2 separate regions of the Homo sapiens genome follow, and region 2 is linked to region 1. Evidence: fine-mapped expression QTL. A gene starts in region 1. The other region holds a variant in brackets. All regions are shown on one strand. Distances are from middle to middle.

Region 1 (4,392 bases):
CTCCTGGATTTGTTGTTAGGAATAAATAAATTAAATTTCATAAAGTTGGCTGGACGCGGTGGCTCACGCCTGTAATCTCAGCACTTTGGGAGGCCGAGGTGGGTGGCTCATCTGAGGTCAGGAGATCGAGACCAGCCTGGCCAACAGGGTGAAACCCCATCTCTACTAAAAATACAAAAATTAGCCGGGTATGGTGGTGCATGCCTGTAGTCCCAGCTACTCAGGAGGCTGAGGCAGGAGAATCGCTTGAACCCAGGAGGCAGAGGTTGCAGTGAGCCGAGATTGTGCCACTGCACTCCAGCCTGGGCGACAGACCAAGACTCTGTCTCAAAAAAAAAAAAAAAAAAAAAGTTCTTAGAGTGCTTGGCACATAGTAAGCTTGATTTTTGACATATTTGTATTATTCATATACAACCAGGGAAAATGGGTGTTCTGTTTTAGAACTAGAACATTTTCTCCCCACAACCTTTCCTTCGACAGTAATGTTTAAATATTGTTTCTCTTAGAAATGATCAGCTTCTAGAGAATTCGAATCTCTATTAATAATATACCCACCATGAATGAAATCCCTGGTAAAGCGCTGGCTTCCCTGTTGGTGCATTTCCTAAGAACCCCCCTCTTTCAGCCAATTCCTCAGGGTTCCCTTCTCCCTGTGGCTTTCAGGTCAAAGCCCTCCATCCCATCCAGGCCAATACTTTTATAAGGGTCTGGCAGACTAGCTCATTCTCCCCTCAGGTGAAACTTTTCCCTCCCCTCCACTTATCTAAACCCTATTTACCCAAGGTCTAGTTCAAGTCAGGAGGCTTCCAGAAGTGCTTCTGCAGCTGCACTGCTGTTGGCCATGGAATGCAGGCTGGAGAGCCCCTGGAGAAGGAGTAAACGACGAAGATGGATGCGTTCCACTACCCAGTTACTGGTAATGCTGAGTTTCTGAGCTCACAAAGGATATTTGTAAATGTTATTTACATAGTTTATTATTTACAGTGAAGCCTAGGCACTGAGATTCTGGGCTACTAGACCTGACAGACACCCGGGACAGCGGTTTGCCCATCTGTAAACTGGAGGGGGAAGTGGGGAGGTATAGGCTCTCGGAAGTTCCGTCCTGCGCTGCGATTTTCAGACACTAGGCCAAGACACTCTGCTTCTTGGCCTCGGAGGACTAACTTTAACCCCCCATACCCTCCCTCTCAATGTCCTCATTGTCCTTTCCGTAATTCCTTCTGGCTCCACCCTAATGTGTGCTTCTGTGAATTGCAAGCTGGGATGGGGGAAGAAGACCGGCATCTTTTTTCGGTTGTAAATTCCCTTTAACGTTCGCTTTCAGAACGCTGTAATTACTTAACTCCTCTGAACTTTCACGGGTCACATTCTCGTACCCGAACTATACATTCAGAACTAAGATCTGATCAGCTGCTTCCGGGCCATGCCCGGCTTTGGAAAGAAACGGGGCGGTTGACACGCTCCCACGATTTGCAAGACTGGGAATCCTCATGGTCGGCCACACTCGGAGAGCGCCAGGGGCGGGGGAGGGGAGCGCGGGGCCGAGGGCCGGGATCGCGATACCTGCTGTAGCCTGGACTGGAACGCGCGAGCGACGGGCGTGGCGCGGGCTCCCGGGGCCGGGGAAGAGGCCTTGGCTGCTGCGGGTGGACGAGGGCGCGGGTTGGGGCGGAGCCGGGTCACCGGGTTCCGGGACTGTCCCCAGATAAGCAGGGTGGCGGCGAGGGCCCCCGCACCTGCGCTTGGCCGCGCTGAGTGAGCTAATCTTGGAGCCTCCAAGGCGGCTTCCTGGCACCGCCGCGCCCTTCTGCACCCAAGCGAGAGTGGACGGGACCTCCGTCGCCCGCCCCAAATGCTCTGAAGAGCCCGGAGCCTGGTGCCCGGAATGTGGCGGCACCGGAAAGCCGGCTCTCGCCTGGCTGTGGTCAGTGACTCCCGTGTGGCCCCGGCTGACGCCTTCGCCCGTGCTCACGTCCGACTTTGTAGGACTGTAGTGGACCGGGTGTGCCCAGATGCTTGAAGAGCGTACTGAGTGTGCCGCCCTTGCCAGGGTTCTGGGCCCTCACGCATAAAGTGGGATAATAATATCTGCCTCTTAGAATGGTTGTTAAGGATTCAGTTAGTTAATTTTAACTAGTCATTTATTTGGCAGCAGCGTAGAATTCTTGTATCCTGATCGTAAATAAAAGCAAAGAAAAACGAAGAGTATTTTTGTCTAAATACATTAATCATGTCACTTTTAAAGCAAATCAGAATCACCATATGCAAATATTCTATATATTTCTCCAAAGTTTTAAATTTGCTATGCCTATTTTCTTGCTGTAATGACTAGCCTTGGTCTGAGAGCTTTTTAAAAAATTGATATATAATTTATATATAATGAAATGTCCTTACACCATAATCGAGATATGAAATATTTCCATCACTTTAAAACATTCTCTTGTGGCCTTCCCAGTGAATAACCATCTCCATCTCCAACTCTAGCCTAAGTGACTTTTGAGTGTTTACAAAAATCAAGTTCACCAATAAGGGAGGCAGAGATCACCTCCAACCCCCTACACCCTCTAGCTCTTAGTGAGCTAATCAGCTGCATCTAGAAGCCAAATTGACACTAGGCAGATTAACAAGAGAAAAGTATACAAATTTTATTAATTTTACATGTACATGGGGATGTTAAGAGACTGAATCCTGAAGAAAGTGTCCAAAGCAAGATGCTTTTATACTTTTTAGAAAAAGAGTGATAAATTTAAGAAGAAGTGACAGGACAAAGAAAATCCGGCTAGGGTGGTAAAAAATTTCTAGGGGAGCCCCTAGGAGATATATGGGGGGTGGGGTGTAAAACAGGTGGAAGATAATGGTTACTTTGCAAGAATGTTTACTCCAGTCCAAATGCCACCTCCAGTTCCAAATCTCTGGTGATGAGAGCTATTTTCTCGCTCTGGCGTGGAGAACATACCTCTCCTAGAGGAATCTTTATTGCTGGCTGCATGCAGGAAGAGACAGCTCAGCTCCTGTCAGGGAACCAGGCTCATTTGTCTTTCACACAGTATGCCAATCACTGAGGCGCACAAGTTTTGCAGTAGAGAAAGGGTGTATTCACAAGGCAGCCAAGACAGGAGACTGGAGAACAGGCCTCAAATGTGCCTTTCCAAAGATGGAATTTTAGGAGTGCTTATGGGATAGGGGAGGAAGGTGGTCCAAGGTTCAGAGAAAGATGAGGTAAGGAAAAGTGAGGCAATCGGTAATCTGAGCAAGCATAGTCAATCTTCATGGCTGTTCATAGAACACATGTTCACAAAATCGTGACGTTAGCATGATCTGAGAGTGGAGTTTTGGGCCTTCTGATGTCAAAAGGTCACCCATTGGACACTCACGCAGGCCAAGATGAAGGGCTGGTGGCTTGAACTGGACAAGAACTGACTCTAAGTTCCTGAAAAATAACTTAAGCAATATTTTCCATGGTGTCCTATCAGAGAAGTTATCTATAAGGAGGCAAGTGGAATTTAGTTATGTATCGTCTAGCTACATGACTTTTAGCTATGCAGGTTTTAAAATCGACTAGAAGCAAGTGACCAAAAGCAAGCAAGGCAAATTAAGTGTCAGGCCTAATCAGGTCAGCCCTCAGTTTTACCCTTTCTGAAACTATAATTTCTCTAATGTTTTCAACTCAAAGTAATCAATATATTATATGGCATATTTGGGGATGGCACATCCTTCATTCTTTCAACTGTCAAAGATTTTCAGCCTCTGAGGATGCAGTCAAAGCAAGTTCTGTAGTAAGAGACATTTTGAATAATAAGCATCCCGATAAAACTCAACACAGTTTCAGCTTAAGATGTCTGCTGAGGATATTGTTCATATTATGTAGTGATCTTTCTGTGAGAATCCATGGGAAAGGGTGATTTTTTGTTTTCGTTTTTGACTTAAATGTAAAGAATAACTGGGGCTGGGCACAGTGGTTCATACCTGTAATCCCAGTACTTTGGGAGGCCAAGGGGGACAGATTGCTTGAGACCAGGAGTTCGAGACCAGCCTGGGCAACATGGTGAAACCTGTTCTCTACAAAAAATACAAAAATTATCCAGGCATGCGCCTGTGGTCTGAGCTACTCAGGAGGCTGAGGTGGGAGGACTGCTTGAGCCCAGGAAGCAGAGGTTGCAGTGAGCTGAGATTGTGCCACTGCACTCCAGCCTGGACGACAGAGCAAGACCCTGTCTCAAAACACAAACAAACAAACAAAAACAAACAGAAAAACTGGGGTTGTTAGCAATTAGTTTGCTTTGAACTTTATGGTGCCTATGAACTTTGTGACCATTAGCATAGACTCCCGACACATCCACGCTATCTGGTTTCAAACCCTTGTAACAACACTTGGGGGCCAGGCACGGTGGC
Region 2 (4,392 bases), 69 kb before region 1:
TCTTGTTTGGGAATTGTTCATAAGTACATCTAAGGTACAGGCCATGGCAGATGTGACAACTACTTGCTGAACTATTAGTAATGGACAGATTGTATTATTTTCAGAATTCTTTCTCATGAGGCAAGAGAGATTAAGTAATTTATCTGACATCATACAACTGATAGAGGTAAAGCTGAAACATGAAACCACTTCTGGCCTCGATAACGTAGTTTAGGTCCTGATTGCAGTGCTAGCAATTAGTGGAGAAAAGTTGAGAGGAGGAAATGAATAAAGGACGTGGGGGAGGGGTATAGCAGAAAGGAAAGAAGAGAAGAGGAGGGTAATGGGAGATCCAGTAGGCAATACAGGAATGAAAAGGATTATATATAATCTCTAATAAAGAATGTTTGGAAAGCTACCCTACTTTAAATTTGACAATTCATATAAAGTGCTTAACACAACGCCTGGCACCTCTTGACAAATATTAGCTGCTAACATCATTATCATCATCATTTCCACTGTCTCCATCCACAAAAATATATCATGAACTCTGCCAGCCCAAAGTATTAGGGTCAATTAGATTATTAAAAATTGTGTGATTCTGCACCCTTTTCCTGCACTGTCCTAAGCATGTTTCCATTTTAACCCCAGCTTTACCACTTATCATTATTTTAACAAGGATTTATCAAACACCTGCTGCATGCTAGGCACACGTTATTGCTTATTTCCCATGCAAGCGTAATTTAGCTTTGCATCATGGGCACATAGTGAGTACTCAGAAATTCCTAGATGAATAAACAAATGGAGAATGGGGTGCCCTTTGATTTTCTACCCTTTAGAGTTTGTCTTCCGCTATGCCCTTTTTCTGATTTCAGTCATCAGATCCTTTTGGTTACTTGAAATGGCCAAGTTACGAGCAATTTCGTAACTTGCTCGTATCCCAACCTGAATCCCAGGCTTGGGATCCTGATGTAGCTTGGCATACCTCATCAGAAGCTTTTTCTCAAACTCAACTTTCCAACTCTTTTTATGTCCCTACCCCAATATCTTACCCTTCCTCATTCTTAAAATGAATAGTTGTCAGCATTTCAACCACTCTTCAGAGCACAAGAAGGCCCCTTCTTTCTCTATCTTAAAATCATAAGACTCAGAACTTTCTGCAGTCATTAGTGGCATTAGCCACGGAACCACAGAATTACAGTTGAGGAAAGTGGATGTGGAAACTGAGGCTTCAGGAGGTGATGGGTGAGTGAGTGAATGGCTGATCCCAGGGCTCCTGACACAGGACCCCCCCATATCAGTGCACACAAGTGAAAGTCATCCACTAGACCTCCTCCAGGCAAGGCCATAGAGGGGTACTCCCACACAGCTTCTTCAGTAAAAGTACAGCTGTTTGCCAAGTGACTGAATGATCTCTGTGCTCAGCATGGACAAATTTTCTAGTTTAAACTTTTATTGTCTGCTTCTGACCCCTCTCAGGTCACTCTGACTGCTGAGACCTCATGTAGCTACATTTCCTGGCCCCGGAAAAGTCTCCATCTTCTTCTGACCAAAGAGCGATACATCTCCTGCCTCTTCTCGGCTCTGCTGGGATATGACATCTCAGAGAAGCTCTACACTCTCAATGACAAGCTCTTTGCTAAGTTTGGGCTGCGCTTTGACATCCGCCTTCCCAGCCTCTACCATGTCCTGGGTCCCACTGCTGCAGATGCTGGACCAGAGTCCGAGAAGGGTGATGAGGAAGTCTGTGAGCCAGCTGTGTCCCCTCCTCAGGCCACACCCACCTCTCTCCAGCAAACACCCCCTTGTTCTACCCCTCCAGCTACCACCAACTTTCCTGCACCTCCTACCCGGGCCAGGTTGTCCAGGCCAGACAGTGGCATACTGGGTGAGGACTCCACCAGTCTGGTGCTGGAGGATTTTGAGGAGGTGTCAGGATCAGAATCGTTTATGGATTATAGGAGTGATGGGGAGTACATGAGGTGAAGGGAGAACTAACATGGGCACAGCCACCGGCTCAGGATCCTATGTAAGTACTCAGAAGGCAGCCGCTGCACATTCCTGTCAATGGCTGGCCTTAACTCAGCTTGTTAGGGCAAAAAAAATCATTC[G/A]TGGAACATTTCCTCTTAGAGGACTCACAGAAAGTGGCATTAACCCAACTTTGAAGATAGCAACTCACTCCGGGTGCATGCAAGGCATGAAGGGATTTTAAAAACTCATTCGTTATTAACTTGATTGCATTTTAGAAAGTGGGCTGGTTGATACGTTGAGCAGGAAGGTAGATTGCTGTTTTTTTGCAAGTTTATTCTAATAGCTGAGGCCACAGCTGGGGCTTAAGGGGCTTTTATTTGTGGCATGCATTTTAAAAGAAAAAGAATGTGGCAGGGTTCTAATTCTGATTGCTTGTCTTTCCTGATACAGAGCCCGTCCTGGAAAGCAGTTGTTATTTAGCCTAGACTGGGCAGGCATCTCTGTTAAAACTGCATATTTTAAAGAGGATTGTGATTATGAGCTAATAGCTCGGGGAGGAAAATGTCCTCATCTTGCTTTCCTCTCACCCAGTGGAGAATGTGTTTGTTGATCACACAGACAGAGGACTAGATACTGCTATGATTAAATGTTACTATGATCAGATAGGTATATGGCAGCCTGGCTTTCCCCAGTCACCCACACCTGTGGGAGGTAGGATGTGCATAAATCCTGGAGGGCCTAACAGTGCGTGCAGGATTTCCCTCACAGAATTTCCCTCCCAGAGAGTCTACAAGAAAGGCTGTGCCCAGTGGTTCTGGGAAATTGCTCTCATGTTTCCCTGGCTGCCCTCATAATACTGTGATGTTTTTCTCTGTAACTCCACCCAACCATGATGTAGGCCTGAATTTCCTGAGGAAAATCCCATTGTTCCCAATTTGGAAGGCGCCTCCCATGGTTCTTCAGAAAGCACCAATAAATTACCTGAGAAACTAGCCCAGTGAGGAAGGCCTCCAGAGTACATGAAATGAATGAGTGAATGTTTGTCTATTTTGAAAAACAGGTTATATAAATGATGAAAGAGGCCATAGAGATGACTGATGAAAGGTTAGAGATTTAGTTTTGTAGATATGGAATTTACAATCTCCTGTGTTACCAGCATCCTTAGAACCATAGTTCAGCTCATTCTGAGGTAATTCCAAGGATCAATCTAACACCCCAGATCACTTTGTTGAGTTCCCCGAAGTGTGCATTGACAACTCTGATCACTCCTTTCCCTCTGTGCAGCTGTTCGCCTTCCTACTCGTTCATCCTGCATCCACGCATGCTCCTTATGTCCTATGGATCCCTCTTGGTCCAACTTGCCCATCCACCTATACACTCTCTCTTCGACTCACAGCAGCTCTCTGTTTTCTCATGTTGTTCTTCCTGGTTTTCTTCTCTTTTCTTGGTTCTATTTTTCTCTTCTTTCTTCTCCAATTTCTTCTCAGTCCTTGATTGCCTCAGTTTGATGTTCTGTTCTTTTTTCCTTTTCTTTCTTGAGACAGGGTCTCACTCTGTCACTCAGGATGGAGTGCAGTGGCATGATGTCGGCTCACTGCAATCTCTACCTCCAAAAGCTCAAGCGATCCTCCCATCCCAGCCTCCCAAGTAACAGGGATTACAGGCACATGTCGCTGTGCCTGGATAATGTTTAATTTTTAAATTTTTTTGTAGAGACAAACTCTCCCCATGTTGCCCAGGTTGTTCTCGAACTCCTGGGCTCAAATAATCCTCCTGCCTTGGTCTCCCGAAGTGTTAGGATTACAGGCATGAGCCACCATGCCTGGCCAGTTTGCTGCTCTTAAGTGTCCATTTTCTATGTCTTCTCAGTTCATTTCTCCCTCTTCACTTGTCTCTTGTTTTCTTCCATTTTATTGTTCATATATTTATCTCTCCTATTACCTCCTTTTTTCTTTTTCCCACCTTTTTTGCCTTGCTGTATCTATTCTTCCTCCTAAACACCCTGTACCCCCATCTTATTAGTTTTTAATCCTAACTCTTCCAAAGATCAGTACTTTTCCCTCTGCCTATAAAGAAAACCATTCAAGTGAAGGTGTAAAATCCCCAGCTTTAGGAATGTTTTCCAAACATCAGGAGGCAGGCAGCATGGTAAATGAGAAAGAGGCCAGGACTGGGAGTCCAAAGTCCTGGCTTCTATGTCTGGCTTTGCTACTAATCAAATATGTGACTTTTTGCAAACCATACCTCACTAAACCTTACTTTCTTCATTTGAGCGTGTTGGACCAGCTGTCCCCAGGAACCCCCTTGGATTGATCTGAGAAGGCAAGGATAAGTTTTTCAAAGGAAGAAAAGAGGAGTAGTCAGTCCGCAGTACAGTAGACACAAGCCCCAGGACATCTGAGTGTCTTTCAGCAAGAACTCTCTGTGATATTTCACTACAAT

The links. PIP is the estimated chance that this variant, and not a neighbour inherited with it, causes the effect. A credible set is the group of variants that fine-mapping cannot tell apart.
Region 2: its variant is the best candidate, but not a certain one, in a credible set for the expression of ADPRH in thyroid (GTEx, PIP 0.76).

The regions. Positions count from the first base shown.
Region 1 is chr3:119,577,023-119,581,414 of GRCh38, reverse strand. ADPRH (ADP-ribosylarginine hydrolase) reads right to left here and starts at 1,923. Exons shown (of 5, transcript NM_001125.4): 1 at 1,564-1,923; 2 at 779-864. RefSeq lists enhancers at 774-993, 1,934-2,033, 1,818-2,319 and a silencer at 1,614-1,753.
Region 2 is chr3:119,645,735-119,650,126 of GRCh38, reverse strand. POPDC2 (popeye domain cAMP effector 2) reads left to right here. Exons shown (of 4, transcript NM_001369919.2): 3 at 1,459-2,008. The coding sequence ends at 1,965. Among named protein-coding and RNA genes, the nearest start is that of POPDC2, 13 kb to the left of the region's middle. The variant G/A (reference allele first, on the strand shown) is at 2,091.